Regions from separate parts of the Homo sapiens genome. Here region 2 is linked to region 1. Evidence: fine-mapped expression QTL. Tissue or cell type: atrial appendage. Region 1 holds a variant in brackets; the other region holds the start of a gene. All regions are shown on one strand. Distances are between the middles of the regions.

What was found. PIP is the estimated chance that this variant, and not a neighbour inherited with it, causes the effect.
Region 2: it holds the start of PACRG, and the variant in region 1 is fine-mapped to the expression of PACRG in atrial appendage (GTEx, PIP above 0.99). The same link has a PIP of 0.9 or more in left ventricle.

Annotation. Positions count from the first base shown.
Region 1 is chr6:162,442,415-162,453,401 of GRCh38, forward strand. PRKN (parkin RBR E3 ubiquitin protein ligase) reads right to left here. Exons shown (of 12, transcript NM_004562.3): 2 at 896-1,059. Among named protein-coding and RNA genes, the nearest start is that of LNCR-SMAL, 210 kb to the left of the region's middle. The variant C/G (reference allele first, on the strand shown) is at 6,025.
Region 2 is chr6:162,721,942-162,732,928 of GRCh38, forward strand. PACRG (parkin coregulated) reads left to right here and starts at 6,033. Exons shown (of 5, transcript NM_001080379.2): 1 at 6,033-6,450. The coding sequence starts at 6,295. It overlaps PRKN (parkin RBR E3 ubiquitin protein ligase), which reads right to left and starts at 5,825. Exons shown (of 12, transcript NM_004562.3): 1 at 5,721-5,825. The coding sequence starts at 5,727. RefSeq lists silencers at 5,403-5,942, 5,432-5,653.

The DNA.
Region 1 (10,987 bases):
CGTTTCGTCTTTCTTGCATTCACAAAGAATAGCGTCAACAAATGTTGAGTTGTATTTGCGAGTTTCCCCAACAAAGGACGGGTCTCTAGTTCTAGGTGATGGTGGTATTATCAGTCACCTCACCAGTCCCCCTAATTCCTACAAAAATCACCAATCCGAATGACATGTGTGTAGGGCTTTCATGGGGCTAGGAGCAGTGGGCTGCCAGAAGCTCTGCTGGGGCCAGGAGAGAAGAGAGCATCGTTCACACTTATTACGTTGCAGGGGCCTATTTCCAGGGACAATGTTACTGAACCTTGGAGAAATTCATGCAAAGGTATACTGTTGTTGTGCTCCAGGCTTCCTTCCCCATCAGCTGCAGAACTGTGCGATTCTGGTCCTGGCCAAGGAGTGCCCAAAGCTAGTTGCCAATGGGCCCCGGAGCCCACACCTCCTCTAGCGCAGCATAGCAGCAGCCCTCACTAACCTCCAGGGGTCACAATTGGGTTACAAATTCCTCACAGTGCAGGGACTGAGCAGCCTGATTGGGAACAATTTATTCGAATCCTTCTTCGTTAAGATTCAAATGGAATAAGTAAGGTAGAAATTGAACAGACACAGAAATTGTGCCTTGCTGCTCCTGTAGTCAGTAGACATTTATTCACTAAGCCTAGCTCGTGTGTTCTTTCTCTCTCTCTTTCTCACTCGCAGTTGTTCTTCCAATCTTTCCTGCTTGCTGTTTTAATGCATAATTAAGAAGGTCAGAATTAATGAAGCAGTGTGGAGTAAAGTTCAAGGAATCCCCAGGCACTATTTATTCTATTAGATCTCAGGCATGAATGTCAGATTGGCAGCGCAGGCGGCATGAGCAATGGAGCTGGCGGCATCCCAAGAACGGCCGCCAAGGGAGACTCACCTGCACAGTCCAGTCATTCCTCAGCTCCTTCCCTGCGAAAATCACACGCAACTGGTCAGCCGGAACCCCCTGTCGCTTAGCAACCACCTCCTTGAGCTGGAAGATGCTGGTGTCAGAATCGACCTCCACTGGGAAACCATGGCTGGAGTTGAACCTGACAAACACTGACCAAGGAAATTGGAAGGGAGAAGAGAAAGTGAGCATCACTCGAAGCCCTTAAATGGTGATAGCAACATTTCTCAACCGATTTACCCCTCGCAGCCCTTCAGTGAATGGTATATATTTTCTTTCACTTACAACAAAAAACTTAATGCTATAGAGCAATATTTGGGAAAAACAGAGTTAGTTACCCACGAGATTTCCCTTTCATATATTCGTCAGTGACCTGCAAACCAAAATTGCATTCTCCCTTTGACATCCATCCTGGGAAACAGAGAGACTTGAGCAGGACACTTGCTTGATTGGAATTGAAAGAGTCCCATGAGTTTATTGAAAAGACTCAGCTCTGACAGCATGTACACACTCACACTCCCTCCACAGTGACCCTCTTAATAAAAATAGGAGGCGATGTGTTAGCACTCAAGGTATAGCAATGGAAAAAAATCTAAGCTGCTCTATAGACCAGAGTGAAGACCCACTCGGGGCTATGGCTCAGAGCCCTAGACTTGGGTGGTCCTGGCCAAAATGCTCCACTGGGTCTATGAAGACAATTATTTGCCCTCTTTTTGGCAGGGAGGGGGTGGAGACACTAGTGACACCATTTGTCTTATTGAAGCCACTGTTCCCCGTGAGACCCAGGCTGCATCCTCTAGTCTGTCTGTCTGCATGCCGTCTTCTCACTGCACCTGCTGTCCCACCTCTTCAGCGTCTCTCACTGCCCTTTACTTTCCATTCTTTCTCTCACTGCTTGAAGTCACGCTCTCATCACATCTTTTCTAGAGTCTCATAATAGCCCCCAACTGGAGTCTTGATCCACGCCATCACCTCCAAAAGGCCCTACATAGTTCTGCAAAATGAGCCTTATTAATACAGAGCTATGTCACACCACTCAAATCCTTTAAGTCTCACACTGTCGGCTGGTGAGGAAAGACTCCAAGATCCCTTTCATCTAGCACAAACCTACATTCCAGCATTTTCTTCATTAATCTCCATGTGTACTCTTTTAAACTAAATGCTCCCAGAAAAAAAAAAATCACAAAAAACTGCTGCACACAACTTCTTGCTTTTATTCATGACCTCCCTCCTTCTCCTCTTCCTATTGAAATCCTGCCTACCTCCATGGCCCACTTCAAATGTGACCTCCCCCAAGAAGCTTCTGGCTATCAGCTACTGCAAAAGCCTGATCTTCCTTATTCAGGGCACCAGTGGCATTTACTATATATGTCTTTTAATATTCACCACATTCCTCATGGAAGCAGGATAGCACACGGGTTAAAAGAACATCCTGAAGCATTAGGAAGACCTATGAAAAATCCCCACAGACTCCTTTAATTGGCTTAGGATGCTAGGGGTCAATCTATTAACCTCCCTCTTTAGGTCTCAGTTCCCTTATCTTGAAAACATAAATAAACCACAGACCATATTATTCGGTTCATTAAATAATATTTATAGTATTTAAAACTATCGTCTTGTAACATTTAAAAATAATGGACATTTAGCTGTTTTTGATATACATTTTGCCTTCTTTAAAAGATAACAAACTCCTCAAGGGCAAGTGTTATTGTTTATTTACTGCTGTGTTTCCTTTAAATGTAGTACTATAGCTAATTATTTCTCAATACCAATGTGAGATGACCCACCTCATCATAATTATAATAATCATTACAATGCCAATAATAATCAGGCACTTACTATGTGCCAGACATTGTGCTCTCATATGGTTTTTCTAAGCCTCCCAGTGATCTGGTCAGGTCCCTATTATTATCCTTATTTTACAGAATAATAAACGAAGGCACAGGGAATGGGACCCACTTTTCTAAGGACATTAATTACTTTCTAATGGAACTGGGTTTCAAATTTATTTCAATCTAACTCTAAAGCTCATTCCATTTCTACTAAAATAGGCTTCCTGAAACCATCTCAGAAGAAAAGTCCAGGCCAGGCACAATGGCTCAAGCCTGTAATCCTAACACTTTGGGAGGCCAAGGGGCAAGGATGACTTGAGCCCAGAAGTTCAAGACCAGCCTGGGCAACAAAGTGAGACCCCATCTCTACAAAAAATTTTTTTAAACAATCAGCAGGGCGTGGTGGCGTGCACTTGCAGTCCCAGCTACTCTGGAGGCTGAGGTGGGATGACTGTGTAAGCCCAGGAATTAGAGGTTTCAGTGAGCTATGGTTGTGCCATTGCACTCAGTCACCCTGGGTGACAGAGACCTTGTCTAAAAAAAAAAAAAAAAAAAAAAAAAAAAAAAAAAAAAAGTCCACATTTCTATCCCTCATGATTAAAAAGATAACAATAAAAAGGCTTTATGACATAAATCAGATATTCCCTATATGGGTGTGCAGTACAAATAAATAAAAGCTCCAGTGAGGAGCTAAGAGCAAAGGACCGTGAACAATAACCATGAACAACATGGGCCCCAAAACAGACGTGACACTCCAGTGAGGGCAGGTGGTCCAGATGGCACCACAAGAACAAAGGCCTGACATCTCTGACCAGCACGGAAAGTGTTTAGAAAAAGGAAGGACGACCAGTGACAAAGTGCTCCAAATAAAGAAAATTCATGAAAAATACTAATTACGGAGGAAAAGGTGCTTTTGATACACTTTTAAGTCAATTTCATTTGACGCCTTTGAAAATAGAGGGGAAGAAATAAAAATGTATTGGAAGCCCTGAGGTATCTTCACAGCATCCTCAGATCAGAGACCATAAGACAACCAATTCATCAGAAAAGACACATGACAAGTTAGGGGCTATAGGGACAAAAGATATGACCCCAGTTCTAAATTTCATTTTCTACTAGTGAGAATAGATTTAAAGTAAAACACCATAGGAAGGAATGTGGGAAGAAGTGGCTGGAATTTGTGCCAAAGCTGCTATAAAACCAGATAAAAATTCCAGGAGATCCTAAGTTTATGATTTTGCTCCAGGGGTTCAAATCATGGAACTCCTACTGCAAGGATGAGAGTTTTTTTGTAAAGGGAAACTGCAAAAAATATTAAAGATACCTCTGTCCAACTACTGAAATCCTAAGTATATACAAGTTTTTTCTATAATAGAAAAGTTACAGATTTAAAGTTACAGTATTTAGATAAATCATAAATACTACGGATATGAATATTTTTAACAGTAAATCTAACATACAATATAAATTTAAAATGGAAAGATAAACCAAATACATAATATTTGACCAACTAAAACATTCGCATGAATAAGAAAAAACATCTTAAGAAACTCACTGAGTTCATAATCAAGTGCCATTATGTGAAAAATGGCTAGTGCTGAATGGCAGTAATGTGATTTGAGTGGGTCTCAACCTTTTTCTGACATATGTGGGAAACATGTCATGTCCCATCTGTACCAGCCCCTGAACTCCAGCCATGATTTCCAAAACAGGAGTGGAAGGAAGTACCCAGTTCTCCCCACCTACTACCTCTTTAAAGTCACAGAAGGCAGAACGTCTTTAGAGCTACATAAAGAGAAATTTGAATGCTGGTTGTAACGCTTGCTAATTTTATGACAAGTTACCTGGCCACCTTGACTGTTAGCTTCCTGATCTAATAAATCGGTATAAGGGATGCAACACCAATGTCTGTTACACAAGATTTATTGAGATTATGGATGTATTAGAAAATCTCAGAAAGAGACTAGTACAGGGCCTATCCTCCTAGTGCTGGGCAAGTGTGTGCTCCAAAAATAGTTCCCTATTCTAGGCACCTAGAGGAGGTAGAGCTAATGAAAGCAGTGTCCTTTGCTTGCATGGTAACTAAGGGAGATTAGATAGGATGTGGGTAAATACTAAATAAAGTAGCCAATTTTTCTGGATTCTGCTCCTCTTGGTGGACAGAAAACTTCCAGAGACCAAGAGATATGATAGAGAATATGGCTCACCTCTACTTTCTAAGGTTTAATTACATATGAAAAGCTTGGAAATGCATTGTTTTAATAATTGTTTTGATGACGTATAATATAGTATCAGAAACAAACAACATACCAGTAAACATTATCAATCATGTGTATTATCAATCAACATCATAATGCACTGATAACAAAAAACATAATGAGATATATCCAGATTCCTTTTTTATGATATCCCTAACCAGGGTTGAGAAGTCCCAGAGAGTAAGGAAGTGAATGGGTGGGAAGAGGGGAAAGGGTTATTGGTGGATGGGCCCTTATATTTCTTTTAAGACAATTTTATTTACCAAGTCTGACCAGGGTATAAACTTCATAAATATAGTAGTCAATATCAATAATTAATGATTCTTAAATGATTCTGGCTGCTCCTCAAGCAGCCATTCCGCCTCCTGCACTGAGAAGAGCAATGTCATTCATCAGCACAGCCCCATCCTCCTTGTCATTGGTCAAATGATTGGTTCAGGGATGATGCAAGCCAATCTGTGCCTGGCACTCCCCTTGTTCCAGTGATTGATTCTGCAGAATACAGGTGACATAAGGTGGACTAATCAAAGTCATATCCAGAACTGTCAAAGGTTCGGTGAAGTCCTTTTAGATGGCAAATAACATCATGTGATGCCTCAGACAGTTTTGCTGAGAGACCCAAAGAAAATCACAGCCCAAGATAGACCATTAACATGAGCACAAAAATGGACTCAGTGCACTGAAGGCAGGCAATTCTTCCTCATGAGAGGGTTTCCTAAGCTCCGTGGGATGTTCGGCTCCACCTGCAGCCCAGTAAGTATCAGAGGCACGCCCCGGTTAATTGCGGCAACACAAAAGTAACTCCACATGTTTCCAAATGTCCCTTGCCTGGGAAGTTTCTTCTGCACCTTTGAGAACTATCACTAAATCTAGTATTCCCTAACTTTAGCAAACCAACCAACCTGTCCTCACACCCTCCTGCGATTACTACCCCATTTTTCTATATAGAAATTTTCATTGAGAATTTCTTATCACCCTGGTCTCCATTTCTTTATTTTATACTCTTCCGTGAGCCAACACTTGAAGA[C/G]TGCTCTTGGTAAAGCAATGAGCTCTACACTTCAATCCTGTCATCACATTTCAGTTCTTATCAGGTTGACCTTCCAGGGACATTCAATATAGTTGGCTTCTGTTCTCATCATCCTTTCTTCTCTTGGCACCCGCCAGAGAAACCCTTCTGGTTTCCCCTACAAAAGAGGACATACTTTTGTAGCTTCCTCTTCTGGATTCTCTCCCTTTATTGGCCCTGCAGATTTTGGAGCATCCCAGGAGTCTGAATCTGTGTATTCTCCCAGGTGACCTCCTCTAATCCCGTGGCTGTAATGCAATGGATATGTCATCAACTCCCAAATCCTTATTTCCAGACTTGCCATCTCCCTGGACCTTTCTTTCTCTTTCTCTTTCTTTCTCTTCCTCCCTCCCTCCCTCCTTCCCTTCCTCCCTCCCTCCTTTATTTCTTTCTTTTCCTCTCTCTCTCTCTCCCTTCCTCTCTCTCTCTCTCTCTCATCTCACTCTGTCTCCCACTATAGAGTGCAGTGGCACGATCTCAGCTCACTGCAACCTCCGCCTCGCAGGTTCAAGCAATTCTCCTGCCTCAGCCTCCCGAGTACCTGCGATTACAGATGCCCACCACCACACCCAGCAATTTTTGTATTTTTAGTAGAGAAGGGGTTTCCTCATGTTGGCCAGGCTGGTCTCGAACTCCTGACCTCAGGTGATCAATTCGCCTCAGCCTCCCTAAGTGCTGGTATTACAGGCATGAGCCACCACACCTGGCCCTCACTGGAACTTCAGATAATTGCATCTACTAGCATTTGATATCTACACGGATGTCCAGTAGATAAATAAAATAAACATTCTCTTCCTACACCTGTCTTAGTGCTTTGCCTTATTCCTACCCTCTTTGATCCATCAATAAATTTTGTTAACGGTAGTCCTTCATTTCTAACCTAATCTCATCTACAGCAATCTATTTCCCTACCCAATAATTTGTGGTGGAACACAAATCTCTAGAACTGCATCTTTGGACTCATAGCTCAATGTTAAGTGACCTTGCATGTGCAATTTCATCTTCATTGGGTTGTTATAAGGATCTGCATTATTACTAGCTACAAGCATTTTTATAGCTCGTTTTTTATTTTTTAATTGCTATTTTTATGTTTTATATTTTATTATTTATTTTTATTTTTATAACTATTACCTGCATACTCATTTAGCACTTGAGTATATGCTGTATGATACCATCCTCTAGTAGCTTGTTTCATAATTCTTTATTTCTGTCTTTGAAGATCTTTGTGACAGGAAGCCTCATTTCATCTCCCCACTTATACATAGAGGCCAGGATTTTTGCCTTTTATAATGAATTATTAAATGCTATCGGATCAACCCTCCTGCAAAAAAACTACTATAAAATTGGGACTTCACTAAAGAAAGCAGATTCTTGAAAAGCCATAGAAGAGTGAACAAAAAAAATGAAGATTTCTAGTTAGGGGGTCCACATCAGGAGAAGTACAGTTACGTAAAGGGAGTGCCCATTCTCACAGCTTTAGGCTTGAAGCCAGGTGCAGTCCGTGCACATGGCATGTGGGCCAGCAGGCACTTTGGTTGCAAAGCCACAGTTTTTCTGGCTGAAGAAGCAAAACACCAAGACTGGGACACCTGCCTCCGAGGAGACACAGAAGAAAATGAGTCAGAAAGAGAAACCCAAATTTCTATCTATCCACGTCTCTGGCTAACCCCTGAATGATGAAGGTGCGTTATCAGACTCAAAGTTGCTCAGCTAAAGGAAGGATGTGCTCAAGGAGGTGAAGTATAATGCCCCTGTGACAGTAAATCCCCTGTGAATGTAAACGCCCCTATGACTGTAAATGCCCCTTTGAGTGTAACACCCCTGTGAATATGAACGCCCGTGAATGTAAACGCCCCTGTGATTGTAATCCCCCTGTGAATGTAAACGCCCCTGTGATTGTAATCCCCCTGTGAATGTAAACGCCCCTATGATTGTAACACCCCTGTGATTGTCTTCCTCCTGAAGAATACAGCATGGAAAGGGGAACAAAAACAACCTCACAGTGGAGAAACCTGACAGGCGCTACCGCAGCCAGGTGATCAAGGTCAACATCAACAGTGGTAAGTCATCTTGATCATGTTTACCCTTGACACAGTGTGATGCAATGGGCAATTTATCTCTGTGGGCTTTCTCTCAAAAACACATAAGCCCAGTCTAATCTTCACGAAAACATCGCACAAAACGCAATTGAGGGACGTTGTAAAAAACACCTGGCCAGCACTGCGCAAACCTTTCAAGGTCATCCAAAACAAGAACAGTCTTTAGAAACTGTTAGAGTCTAAGGGCCTAAGGAGATGAGTAAATGCAATGTGGTAGCCTGGATGGAATCCTGGAAAAGAAAAGAGACATTCGGTAAAACTAAGAATATCCAAATACAGTTTGAATTTTAGTTAATAAGAATGTATCAGCATTCTTTCATTAATGATAACAGATGTAGTATAACAATGTAAGAAGTTTAAAATAGGGAAACTGGGTGTGGGGTACATGGGAACTCCCTGTACTATTTTTGCATCTTTTTCTGTAAAACTAAAACTGTTGTAAAATAAATGTTCATATATATTAAAGAAAAAGATCTAGATGGAGATCAGACTTGCACACAAAGAACAGATTTTCTTTTCAAGATCAACCAAAATAAATGTCTTCCAAAACAAACAAACAAAGAACCAAGGGTCACTGGAGAAAAAATTACAGAATTCAGTGTCTCCAGTAATTACGTTTATAATGTCTGCGATATAATTTTAAAAGTATCTAACATTTCAAAGAACCATGAAAGTAAACCATTCTCGGAGAAAAGAAAATCAAGTGAGACAAAACCCTGAAATGACTCTAATTTTGAAACTAGGAAACAAAATTTTAAAGGAGCTAGTAGTATTACTGTCCTTAAAGGAGTAAAAAAAAAAAAAAAAAAATTGCAATGAGTGGAAAGATATGACAGATAATCAGAGAAATAGAAATTATAAAAAGGAATCAGGCCGGGCATGGTGGCTCACTCCTAGCAATTTTTTGGGAGGCCCACACGGGCAGATCACTTGAGCCCAGGAGTTTGAGATCAACCTGAGCAATACAGTGAGACCTTAGCTCTATTTTAAAAAAAAGAAAAAAAGAGAGAGAGAGAGAATCAAATAGAAATTCTAGAACTAAAACTACAATTGCCTGGAATAAAAATCTGTTAAATAAATTTAATACCCAAATGGAGATTAAAGAGGAAAGCATTAGTGAAGAATAAAGAATTGTTTTTAAATGAATAGATGTTAGGGACATATTAGATAATATCAAATGATCTAATATATATGTTGTTGGAGTCACAAAGAAAAAATGAAAGAATGGGGCAGAAAAATTTTTCAAAAAATAATGCCCTCAAATTTTAATATGTGATGAAATAAATAAATTTACATATTCAAGATGTTCAACAAATGTCAAGCAGGATAAATATGAACGTGCTTGTGTCAAGGCAAATCATAGCATAGTCAAACTATGGAAAGCCAAAGACAAGGAACAAGCTTTGAAAACAACAAGAAAAGTTTGTCTGTCACATACAGGGTTAAAATGATGTAATTAAGGGTTAACTTCTGGTCAGAAACAATGGAGTCCAGAAGTGACGGCACAATATTACAGTTCAGGAAGAAAACAAAAAGCAAAAAATGCTTGTCAATGCAGAAGTTTATATCCAGTGAAAATATCTTTTAAAAATGAGAATAAAATAAAGATATTTTAAGATTAAATAAAATTAAGATAATTTATCACAAGCAGACTCATATCACAAGAAATATCAAATAAACTCTTCAGGCTGAAGTGAAATGGTACAAGACAGAGATTCAAATCCACAAGAAACAGTAAAAGCATCATAAGTGCTAAATACAGAAGATAATTAGGTAGGAATTTTTTTGCTTTATTCAACATAATTTATTTAATGCAGATGACTGGGTAAAGCAGAAATTCTATTCCATGGGGAGTTTAGAACATATAATATGTATGCCAAGTATGGCATAATAGGTGCGGGGTAAATATGGGTCTTTTATTTATTTTATGAAGTGGAGCAATATTAACAATGAAGAAACTAAGAAGTTAAGGACAGACATTATATTTCTTATAGTAAAAATCAAAATGAATAAAAATATTGACCCAAAAAGCAAGCAAAAATCATAATGGAATTCCAAAAAATATTGAAATAATCCTTCCAAAAAGGGCAGGAGATAATGAAGAATGGAAGAAAAATAGAGAGGTAGATAGAAAAATACAATAAACTGGTGACCAGAACTCACCACATCAATAATTACATTAAATTTTAATGAAGTAAACACTCCAATTAAAAGGCAGGGACTACGTGGACAGAGGGAAGTGGGTCCAGCTATACTCTGTCTACAGGGCTGCATTTTAGATATAAAGACACAAATGGTTTCAAAATAAATGAATAAAAAATACGCCAAGTAAAATGTAATCATAAGAAGGCAGGGATGACAATATTATTAATATCACAAAAAATAGATTCAAAGGCAAAACTATTTTGAAAAAACAAAAAGAGAGAAACTTAAGACTATGCTGCCACCACTTGAAAAGGTGGATCGCAAGGCTCAAGAATCATAGCCCAAGCCTTCCCACTCCTTCCCTCCTTGAGGTGGAAGAGGTGCCCGGTACTGCATCGGGCCAGACTGGGAATGTCAAGGTCTCCTGCCACTTCCAGGTTCCCCGGCTGGAAACAGAATGAGGACTTCCTACCCTCCTCAGGGAGTAAGAGACCCTGGTCTTAGAACATAGCAACTGATGAGGACATCGCGCATAGCCTCAAGGAAACAGCTTTGGTTCTTTGACGAGGGTGTATCTCCAGTAGAATTCCCTCCTCTCTCTCTTTTTCCTTCTCTCTCTCCCCAACATACTCTTTTTTTATTCTTTGATTAATTCTTCCACTTTTAAAATTATTTAGTAG
Region 2 (10,987 bases), 280 kb after region 1:
AAAAGAAACATGAAAAATCACGTGTTGCAGGCATGTATGTGTGTGCTGATATGTACATACATCTTTCTAATTACTCTTCTTCTGTGGTGGTGAAGGTGCAATCTATACCACCAATATAAGCCTAATCAGCCCAACTAGGCCACAAACTTATTGGGAAGAAATGGTCATTTCTATGTACCTTCCCCACAGGCAATATATAGACAAATACAACCTATGTGTACCCATCCCTACCCAGCACCATCTAATACATATGGTATAAAGAAATGACACTGAAATAATAATCATAAATACCTATTCATTCAAGGAAAAAAGGTTTCTATTTGGTGAAAAACAGACATTTGAGTTAATCTGTTAAGAGTCCTAGGTAATTAGGAAATTACTGGGGGAAAAGAATCCTATTACTGTAATTCCTTTTAACCAAGATTCTATGCTACAGGATGAAGTAAATAAGCCAGGGAGGTGAGCTGCAACATAAATCAGCCGACTGTCACATGAGTCTCTTTAATATTACAAAATTGAGGGAGAGAAACCATTCAGATTACTACGAAGAAACATTTAAAATGAGCTCATTAAATGCAAATTAAAACAGAAACATTGAATAAGCACTGGGCTACAATTAAAGGCTGCAGAAACAGCAGGTAAGAAACAATTTTCATTGATCAAAGAACTAATAGCTAACAGAATAAAGTATTTTGCATTAAAACTGCTTTCATGAATATGAAGCATTTCGAAGTAAGAACTCTTTTTTTTGCATTTTTCAAAGAAACTTTGGAGGTAGGAATGGATTTACATATCTTAATACAAAGTACTTTCATTGTATCATTTTCAGGCAATGAAACTATGAGGTTTCAAAAAATGCAGACTTCAAAAACATCCTCAGAAATAGGGCCAAAATTGTAAAGGGCAAAGGGTCATTTTAGAGCCTTTGGACCCAAGGAAGAACTATTATATAATTACATAAAATCTTCTATGCAAAACTTTAGTAGAGCCTATTTTTGACACAATTTTACCTCATTATAAACAGAAGCTTTGGGGTACTTAGGCATAGAGCTGGTTTTCATCAACTTATCAAAATGGCAGGGCAAAGAGCAGTACACAGTATATTCAACTAGAAATATAAATTGAGACTTTAAAATTCACTGCACACAAGCTTGAAAACAAATATGCAGATGTGTAGCCAAATGGTGAAGTCGGAATATACATTCCTGATGGCAAGGGACTTTTTCTGTTGTGTTCCCTCGTTTCCCTGGCACCTAGAGCAGTTAAGGGTACATAGCAGGTGCTGGAATCACTGGATCTGCTTTTGCAAAACTAACGCACTATAAGATGAGAATGAGAAGTTTTCTTCTAAATTAATTTGAAAAGTTAAAAGATACTGTTTTTCATCTGTCAAGACGGCAAAAATAAAAAATCTTCGATGGCACATGGGAGGAAATGGGCACTCTTATACACACTGAAAGGGAGGGCAGGGCCACCAAGGACAGTTGTGCAGCTTGTACACTGAAAGGCACTACCCCTAGGGTGAGAGAGAGGTGGGGGACCGGAGATCCAGGAGGCGTTCTGCTAGTGAAAGCTGAGTCAGTCTCAGGAAGGACGTCTTTTGGCAATTTTCAGCCCAGAGGGGCAGGGCAGCTCTTTACTACCATGTTGTATTAGTGGAGGCTTTAGATAGGCTTGTAAAATTGGGCAACTTATTTTGGAAAAATTTTGAAATACCTAGGAAAATGTAAAATCTACAAACTCTTTAACTCAAATTGTCATACGATTTTTATTTTACATCTATGCTTACATGTGCAAGTAAAAAGATATGGCCACAAACACTTCTGACAACAGTTGTCTGTAAACCTAATGAGTGCTTATTTATTGGTAAATATTTTCATAATTAGTGTATCCTATAAAAGACTAGGCAGGAATCGCTGTGGAGTGGATCTGGACATGCAGATATGTAAATTCTCAAAGAGATGCTAAGTGAAACAAGGTATAGAAGAGACTATGTTCCAATGAATGGTTTTTGTCAATCAAAAATCTTCTTAAAAGTCTAAGACACTGAATGTGTATTTCAATACTGACAACATTGTTGTATATATAACCATGCACTCTAATATCTGCTGTTACTCAAATACCTAAATCCAGTTCTACAGAACATTTAGAACATACCACAAATATCCCCACTAACATTCCATTTTAAACACAAAGAATTGCTCATTTTTAAAAAAGTCAAAATATATTTTTAATAGAGGTACCAAAAATTACATTTTTCTAAATTGAATTCTTTTAAGCTTTTCTATTCTGCTTTATATCATCTTGAAGTCCTTCTCCACACTTTCCACAAAGGCACAATTTTTAACCGACTTCAATTAAATTATGTTTCTGTAGCTGCCTGGGTCAGGGCATTCAACACATCAATCACAATGCAGGTGGGAAATGTAAGTACTTTTGAAACAGTCCTCATGCCAATAAGGGAATCTTCGGTTTTGAGAAAGTAAAAGGAAGGTACATGTCATTAGCAGTGAGGTCACAGTCAGTCCTGTTTACTCCTATTCTACCAGGAAACCCATCTTTACGTTTCTCCTTAAACTAAGCCAGGATTTAAATAAAGTGGCAGAATATTATTCGCAGTAAGGTTGAGGCGGGAAATTAAAGAACAATAAAATTAAAAAGAAAGAGAAATAAGTTTTCCTGTTTTAGGCTAACTTGTTCCAGAAGCAGCAACAGGCACAGCCTAGACCCAGGAAAAGTCTTGATAATATTATCTAATATGCTCTGGAGACTCTCTCAGCACTCCCTCAACACAGGGAGAAGAAAAACAAATTTTCCTTTGTTTTACAGAATGAGTTTATAGACTCTTGTTCTCTGTAACTAGTGATTTCAAGTATTCTGTTTTATCTAAGTAGTACAACGAAGGTCATAAAAAGCCTGAGTAGGCCTGAACTACAGCTGCCTGGGCACCACAGAGAAGGTTATAGGATAAGCCTGTGCCCAGGCAAACCTAGAAAACGAACATCTGGGTTGCTTGGCAATGGTCATCTGCAATCCTGTCTTTGTCCTGCCTCTGTATCCCTGCTTTCACGCCACTGTAAGCTTGCTTCAAGCTAGCCCACCTCCGTTTGTGAAGTGTGTATAAAAGTCAAGTACTGTCTTTATTCTGGGCCCAGTCTTTTGGATGTGAGTCAGCTGGGCCTGAGTACACTCAATAAAGATTCTCCTGCTTCAACCTGAGGTCTCCCTCATACTCCCGAATCCCGCAACAAGGTGAGTGTAATAGTTAGAGAAAGCATAGGCCTGAAAGGAGCAAGCTTTGAGAAGCACTCTTACCTTTAACAGAAAATCCCAGATACATACTATTTACATTTTAGTGATCACTGGATAAAGTCTATAATGTCTTTCCTGGCTCTGAATTTTTGTCACAAAAACACAAAACCCATCACTCCAAGGCTTCCTTTTAATGGTTTTCACTTTCACCTACCTTTAGCACTGTTCACGACACCCAAATCCCAAACTGACCATTCAGATGTTTACTGAAATGTGGCTAATGAGGCTGGGCGTGGTGGTTCATGCCTGTAATCCCAGCACTTTCAGAGGCGAATGCGGGAGGATTGCTTGAGCCCAGGAGTTTGAGACCAGCCTGGGCAACATTATGAAACTCCATCTCTACAAAAACTATAACAAAAAATTGGCAGGCATGGTGGCACACACCTGTAGTCACAGCTACTCAGGAGGCTGAGATGGGAGGATCACTTGAGCCCAGGAGTTGGAGGCTGCAGTGAGCTGTGATGGTGCCACTGCACTCCGGCCTGGGTGACAGAGACAGAACCTGTCTCAAAAAGAGGAAAAAAAAAAAAAAAAGACGTGTGTCTAATTTCAGAATTAGGCAATGCAACTAGTTGAATATTTTATTGCACATTGTCCATGATCTTATATGTAAGGCACATTTCCTAGGGAAAGCAGGCATGGATTTAATCATTTATGTTGTACTGCACACTTATTTGCACTATGTAAAACCATGGCTGGAGTGAGAGAAATAACACTTTTAAAAACCAACCTTATATTCTCCATGTCATTACCAGTAATTGATAACTGTTTAATCATCAACTCCAAAGATATTTCTTCCTTATTGGAAGAATTCCAGATAAAACTAAACAGAACTGTCCAAACACATTTCATCCTAATAAAGTTATTTATATAATCACTTATTAGGTCATAACTTATAACTGAGTAATGTTCTTTAGATCTTAAGTGCTTGTCTTTATATAGCTTTACAATAAATTTGTTTCTCTTAAAATTATCTGTGCACTAGATTAAGTTAAATTAAAATAAAATGTATTTAACTGTCTTCAAAATAAGGTATAGGCTATTTTCTTCCTGTAGACTGACAGCACAGATATTGGAAAATCTCTTCTACTTGGTTTTCTGATTCAGTTCAAACTTGTGCTTGCAAGTGAATCTTACGTAAATGTCACCTAAAAAGAGCTCAAGAAGACTCATAAAAAATATTTTTTTCGTAATTTGATTAACTTTCAAGTCATTCACCAAAAGTCAGACCATGCTAGAAAGGGAAGAAAAGTTGGACAACATTCTTGTTTTACCACAAAGACCATGCCAGTTAGCTGGCTTGATTCTCCCACTGATGGGGAGAATGTTTACATTTTAACAATAACTTCACAAATAAACAGATGTAAGAAGTGTTTTCAGTGCATAAAGATCATATACTTTATAAATCCACCTCTCATCTTTCTTCTGGACAGACCACATCTGACTTCGAACGTACTTACTGCAATCAAAAGTGTTTTGTAAAGGACCCTCCTCAGGAATAAACAAGCTCACTAAACCCTCCATACATAACCTGGAGAAACCTCCACAATAATGAAACCCCATCTAGCACTGTTTTTCAAACATATGGTGCATTTCCATTAATTTTCAGGGATAGCCCCTAAAGTAACTTTTGGCTCAACAACCCTGGAAGAGAGGACCTTTGCTCATCTTACACATCAAGTGTTCATGAACAACTCTGATGCCACTAAGTTTCGTTCACAAACTTGCACCTCGGTCGTTCTTTTACAAAAAAAAAAAAGAAAGGTTATTTTGCAAAAGGCAATAGATTTAATCTTGGCTACTATTTACTCTTAATGTTTCTTTCATCTCAGCCCTCCAATGAGAAGTTTAAAAGGAAACATCCGAGGGAGCAAGTTTAGATCTATCTGGAGGAGTTTCTGTGGAGCCAGCCACCCTCACCAGGTGCCTTCCATTAGAGTTTAATGCTTTGCTGCGGTTTCCTGAAAGAGCCCCACAGAGAGTGGGTCTCGATGGGTCCTGAACCGCACCACAACCGGCCAGTGAGGTGAGGGGCGAAGGTGAGGGGCGGCGGCGGGGCGAAGGTGAGGGGCGGCGGCGGGGAGAAGGCTTCGGGACCCCACACGGTCCGGGGGACCGCGAACGAGGAGCGGGGGTGCGGGGCCGCCTGGCGTCCCCGTCGAGGCGGTCTTCATGAGAACGCTCAGAGCAGGGGCGGGCAGGCGAGGGCTTCGAACGCACACACTGGGGCCCCGGACCCGCGTCGCTGAGCTGGGGAGCCCGGCGGCGCGGGCCGGGGACGGCACGGGCACTTTGGCCCCGTCATTGACAGTTGGCACCGGGGGTCCTGGTCGGCCGAGGCGGGGCGTGGCGCCATACCGGGGCGTGGGGCGGCGCAGAGAGGCTGTACCTGGCAGGTACCCACGTACCTATCATGGTCACTGGGTAGGTGGCGGCTGCGGGCCAGGAACAGGCCCATGCGCGCAGCGGCGCCAGCCGCGCCTCCCACCAGCGGCTCTCCTGGGTTAAATCCTCCAGGCCTCCCCGCCCCCGCGCCCGGCCCTAGGAATGCGCACGCGCGGAGGGCGCGGCCCAGGGCCTGCTGGGAGTCGTAGTTCTAACGCGTAGTTTCTCCTCACGCCTCCTGCCCCCAGCCCCCCACCGCCGCCCTTTCCGGCTTCAGGCCCAGCAATCTTACGTCACCGGGGGGCGGGGCTATGCGCCCGCCGTGTTGACCAGTCGCTTAGCAACCGGGAGGCTTACCTTTGGAAGCTTGTTGCAGCTCTAGCCAAGGTCCTGCCCTCTTCCCGCCCCGCCCCTAGGGTCCAGCTCCCTTCACCTAGGAGCTGCCAAACATCTGGATCAACCTGGGCACTACGAGGGGTTGAATTTCTACCATTATCGCGCCTTTTGATATTTTTTTCCAGACCTCCTGCTCACATCCGTAAAGCCCACTGATTCTTTTACTACACTTTTTATGAGAACAAGACATTTTCTAGGAAGATGGTGGCAGAAAAAGAGACCCTGAGCTTAAACAAATGCCCAGACAAGATGCCGAAGAGGACCAAGCTGCTGGCACAACAGCCGCTCCCGGTGCACCAGCCTCACTCTCTGGTTTCTGAGGGTTTCACAGTCAAAGCCATGATGAAAAACTCAGTCGTAAGTGATCTTCCTGAATTAAATGCACTCGCTCTGAATCAGGGGACACGAGATTTACAGAGGTTGGCCAGCCTTAGGATGGACTCTGAGCCATGTCCTGGGTGGTCTTTGCCAAAAAAGGCAGTTACTTGGCAAGTAGCAAACGGTGCCCCACAGTGTGTGGGGGGCAGGCTAGGTTGTTAGAATCTTGGGCAAGTGATGTACTCTGCCCATTTATAAGCACCTTCCTGATAACTTATGGTTTCTGGACCGCCCAAAATTACTCTTAAGCTATTTACACGAGGAAAAAAGATCCCCTTTACTTACTAATTCCTAACTAGCCCCACTCAGCAAAGGGCCTTATAGAAGGTGAGTTCTTAGAAATCATAAACTCTTGCAAAATTTAACATGAGCTGATATACAACCGGGAACATAAACTCATGAAATAATCTATAATGAGAAATTTCTTCACTTCAACCTAGGAAATTTTAGAATATCCTAGCATTTGCTCTAACAACACTTGTCTCTTACAAAATGATGTCATCTTCTTAGAGTACTGAAAGCCAACTTAATATGAACACTGTTTCCTGACAGGCCTTTTAAGATGATGTGCTTTAAACAATACAAGCTTTAGCTCATATATCTCTGCTACTAATACAATTCATATTTCATCTCTATTATTTGTAGTAATAAAAATAAAATATTCTAAGTATCATTAGAGAAAAAAGATTAAAAATATATACAAATATTTTAGCTGTCTGCATGATAGTATATATTTTTTAAACCTTCCTATTTGTTAAATAGCTTTACACTTGGTATGCTAAGACAGATTTTGCTACTGAGTAAGCAACTGTCTGGGAATGAGGCATTAAATAATAAATGCATCTTTCAAATTTGTGTAATTTACACCCTGGGAAGATCTGAGTTATTACATGGCAATTCATTATGTTAAATGAATAGTGTTGTTTTCCAGTGTCACATTATTTCCTTTGCTTATAGGTTGCAAACCTGATAACTTATTCCTAAACGACATACTTAAAATACATGAATGAAACAGATTACCTATAGACCTCTAGGCCAGGTTCCCATGTGGCTATGCAAAACGATATCCTAATTATTGGGAAGTGTGTCAGGTGATTTACAGTAGTTAAAATTCTTGGAAATGGACTAAAATTCTGCTTGTTGTAACTAATTCTTTTTCATGGAATTTCACATAAATTGGTTCTCCTAGGAGTCAAGATGATGCATTTATCAGCAATACCATAACCATTCAGGTTAATCATTTAGTTTTTCTTCTACACAATATTTACAATTTTGATGTTTTTTAATGTTATACTTTAATTTTTTTTTTACTGGTTGGGGTTCTTTTCTGTTTTTTCCTAAACCTGTATTCATAATTCTTGTATCATATTAATTCTTTAATATAATCTTACACCTAAAGAGATAGTTCTGCAAAATCTGATGTTTCTGTATTGCCAAATGTAATAAGTATGCCTACATGACTTAAAAAAAACATTGATTATGAAGCAGGCTTCTTTATAAACAACTTAATTGAGATCCATTATCTTCTCTTTTTATGTTCTAAAGGAAAATCTTGTACTAGCAATACCTCTCTTGCCATTGGAAATCGTAATTCTTAAATGCAAACATTATTTATCCATTCATCTATTTATTCAGTCAACAACTGTCTCTCTTTTTTTTTTTTTTAATACCCAGTGTTTGCTAAGCACAGTTCTGGGGATTTGGGATCAGCAAAGCAAAGTCCCTGCCCTTAGTACTCCGAGGAAAACCAAAATAACAACATTCAAATCTTGATAAAAGAAGGCTGGACAATACCGTTTATACAAAATAACTTCAGTGGTACAGGAAATAAAAATTTTCAATTTCATAACCAATATTTACATTTCACCATTTTTATCTTTAGCAGTATAGACTTCTCAGCATTATAAGGTGAAAATGTCCTCATCTCTTTCTGAAGGTGTATTTTGATTCAGGACGTGTATGCCAATTTCCAGCTTTTCTTAATTGCAACCTCATGCTCCAAGAGCCAACACCCTCCAAACCACTTTTCCAGTTAGATAAGTCAACATTCCAATGCTCTTCCACCTAAAACATGAAGAACTGTATATATCATAAGGAGTTATACAGAGACTCCTGATATTTCTCTGAGTGCGATAGTGATACAAGTACATAAACTTGATAATAAATATGTTTCATCAAATGGGCTGTGCAAGCAGAAATGCTTATTTAAACAATCTGGATATGAGAGTGCAAGATTATTGAAAAAATAATGATAAATGTAAATGGCAAAATTTTTAAAATCTCAATGTCAAATATTTTTCTTCAATAGAAACTAGACTTTCTTTCCATGAAATTTTTGTTGCATTCTATAAGAAAACAAGCATCACAAAAGCCCTGCAATGAAATAATATTCAAATTCACATTTTTATAGTGCTTGCCTATAAAGAGATATGAGATACACAACTTGAAGATTTCATAGTTCATTTTCCTTTAAAAGTCTTGTTTGGGGTGTGATAGAGCCCATGACCAGAAACTAGTAACCCAGTATTTTGTTGTCTTTATCTTGTCAGATACTTTCTGTGCTGAACAAGCTTATCACGAAGCAAGTTAGAAAATCGACCCAGGGTTATGGTGACAGAGAAGTTGAGTTCAGCCTAAGCTTTCTATTACAGCTTTCCTTCTCAAAAGACTATAGATGCTTTATGCTCAAAGTTTAGGGGAATGGAATAAATAATTTTTTTAATATTAAAGGTTGAGTATTCCTATTCCAAAAGTCTGAAACCTGAAGTGGTCCAAAATACAAAACTTTTTGAGTGTTGACATTACACTCAAAGAAAACTCTTTTGAGCATTTTGGATTTCAGATTTTCAGAACTGGCGTGACCATCAGTATATAATACAGATATAGTCAGCTCTTTGTACAGATTCTGCCTCCATGGATTCAACTAACCTTGGATTGAAATGTTTGGGATAAAAATTTTATCTGTATTGAACATGTACAGACTTTTTTTTTTGAGTCATTATTCCCTAAACAATAGAGCATAGCAACTATTTATGGAGCATTTATATTGTTTTAGATATTATAAGTAATATAGACATGATTTAAAGTATATAGGTAGAAATGTGTAGGTTACATACAAATACTACGCCATGTTATATCAGGGACTTGAGCATCTGAAGATTTTGGTATCTGCAGGAGGTCCTGGAAACAATTCCTCATGGAGACTGAGGGATGACTGTATTCCAAATTTGAACAAAAAACAAAAACAAATCCAAAACACTTCTGGTCCCAAGCATTTCAGATAAGGGATAGTTCAACCTATACTTTACATGTATAGTGTGTTTTATATTTACCAATCATGTGCTCATTTAACACGTAGTGGTAATCATCAATATTTATAAATTATATATTAAAATATTAATTTGGCTTCTGTAACACTGACCAAATAACAATAGCTTAATTAAGATGGAAGTTGTTTCTCTCATAATAGAAGTTCAATTTTGTAGGCAATCCCAGGAGGTTGGGCAGCATTCCCCATGAGGCAGGTGCAGGGGCATAGGAGCATGTTTGTTCTTTGCATCCTGTAAAATGACACCTGAGACAAGGGGGGCTCGAGACCACCAGGGTCAAATACCTGCCCTCAAGAAGGAGGAAAGTGGAAGCAGAGAGCTTCCCATTATGTGCATGACCCAGACACAGCACCCCACTTTCATTCTCATCCAACTGGCCAGAACCTAGTAATAAATACACCTACATTTTCCCTTTTTGCAAAAGCCTATGAAAGCTTGACCCATGAAGCAACTCCCAAGCCCACGTACCTGTCTCCTCAGGAAAAGGATGAAGGAAGCTATGTAGTTCCAAAAGGGCATCATCTCCAACACCTACTTCAGGTGGAGGAGAGAAAAATGGGTATGGAGCAATCTGCAAGAATGAGGCAGGAAGAAATGAAGAGCAAACAGCTTCACTATGAGGGCATGTCCCAGAAACAGCAATCCTCACTCCTGCTCAAATCCATTGCCAAAACCTAGTCTTATGGCCACAGCTAGTTGCAAGAGAGGCTGGGACATGTAGTCTTTAACTGGTAGCTCTGTGTCCGGCTCAAACTCACAATGTTTTATTACTGTAGCCAAGGAATATTGGGGGATAATTAGAAGTGTCTAGCTCCAGTGCTAAATGTGCTACATTATTAGTGAAGAAAAGGAGAGAGACAAGTAAAATAATTACAATACAAATAAACAGATGTCTCTGGCAGAGAAGTACTAATGATGAAGGGACCAAGTGGCGATGAACTAATGGGTGCCCTCATCACCTTTTGTCTAGGCTTGTACAATATCATCCACCTATCAATTGGTTGACTCCCTCAATCAATTATCAGTACAATTACACTAATCTTTCTGGTACAATGTTCTGCTCCTATCACTATTCAGAGCTTTTGGAGCTTCCCAATTCTTATAGAAAAAAAGTCAAGATACTTCCCCAGGGCCAGCAAGGTCTTGTGTGATCTAATCCCATTCTGTGTTCTAAAATTTCATCTCCC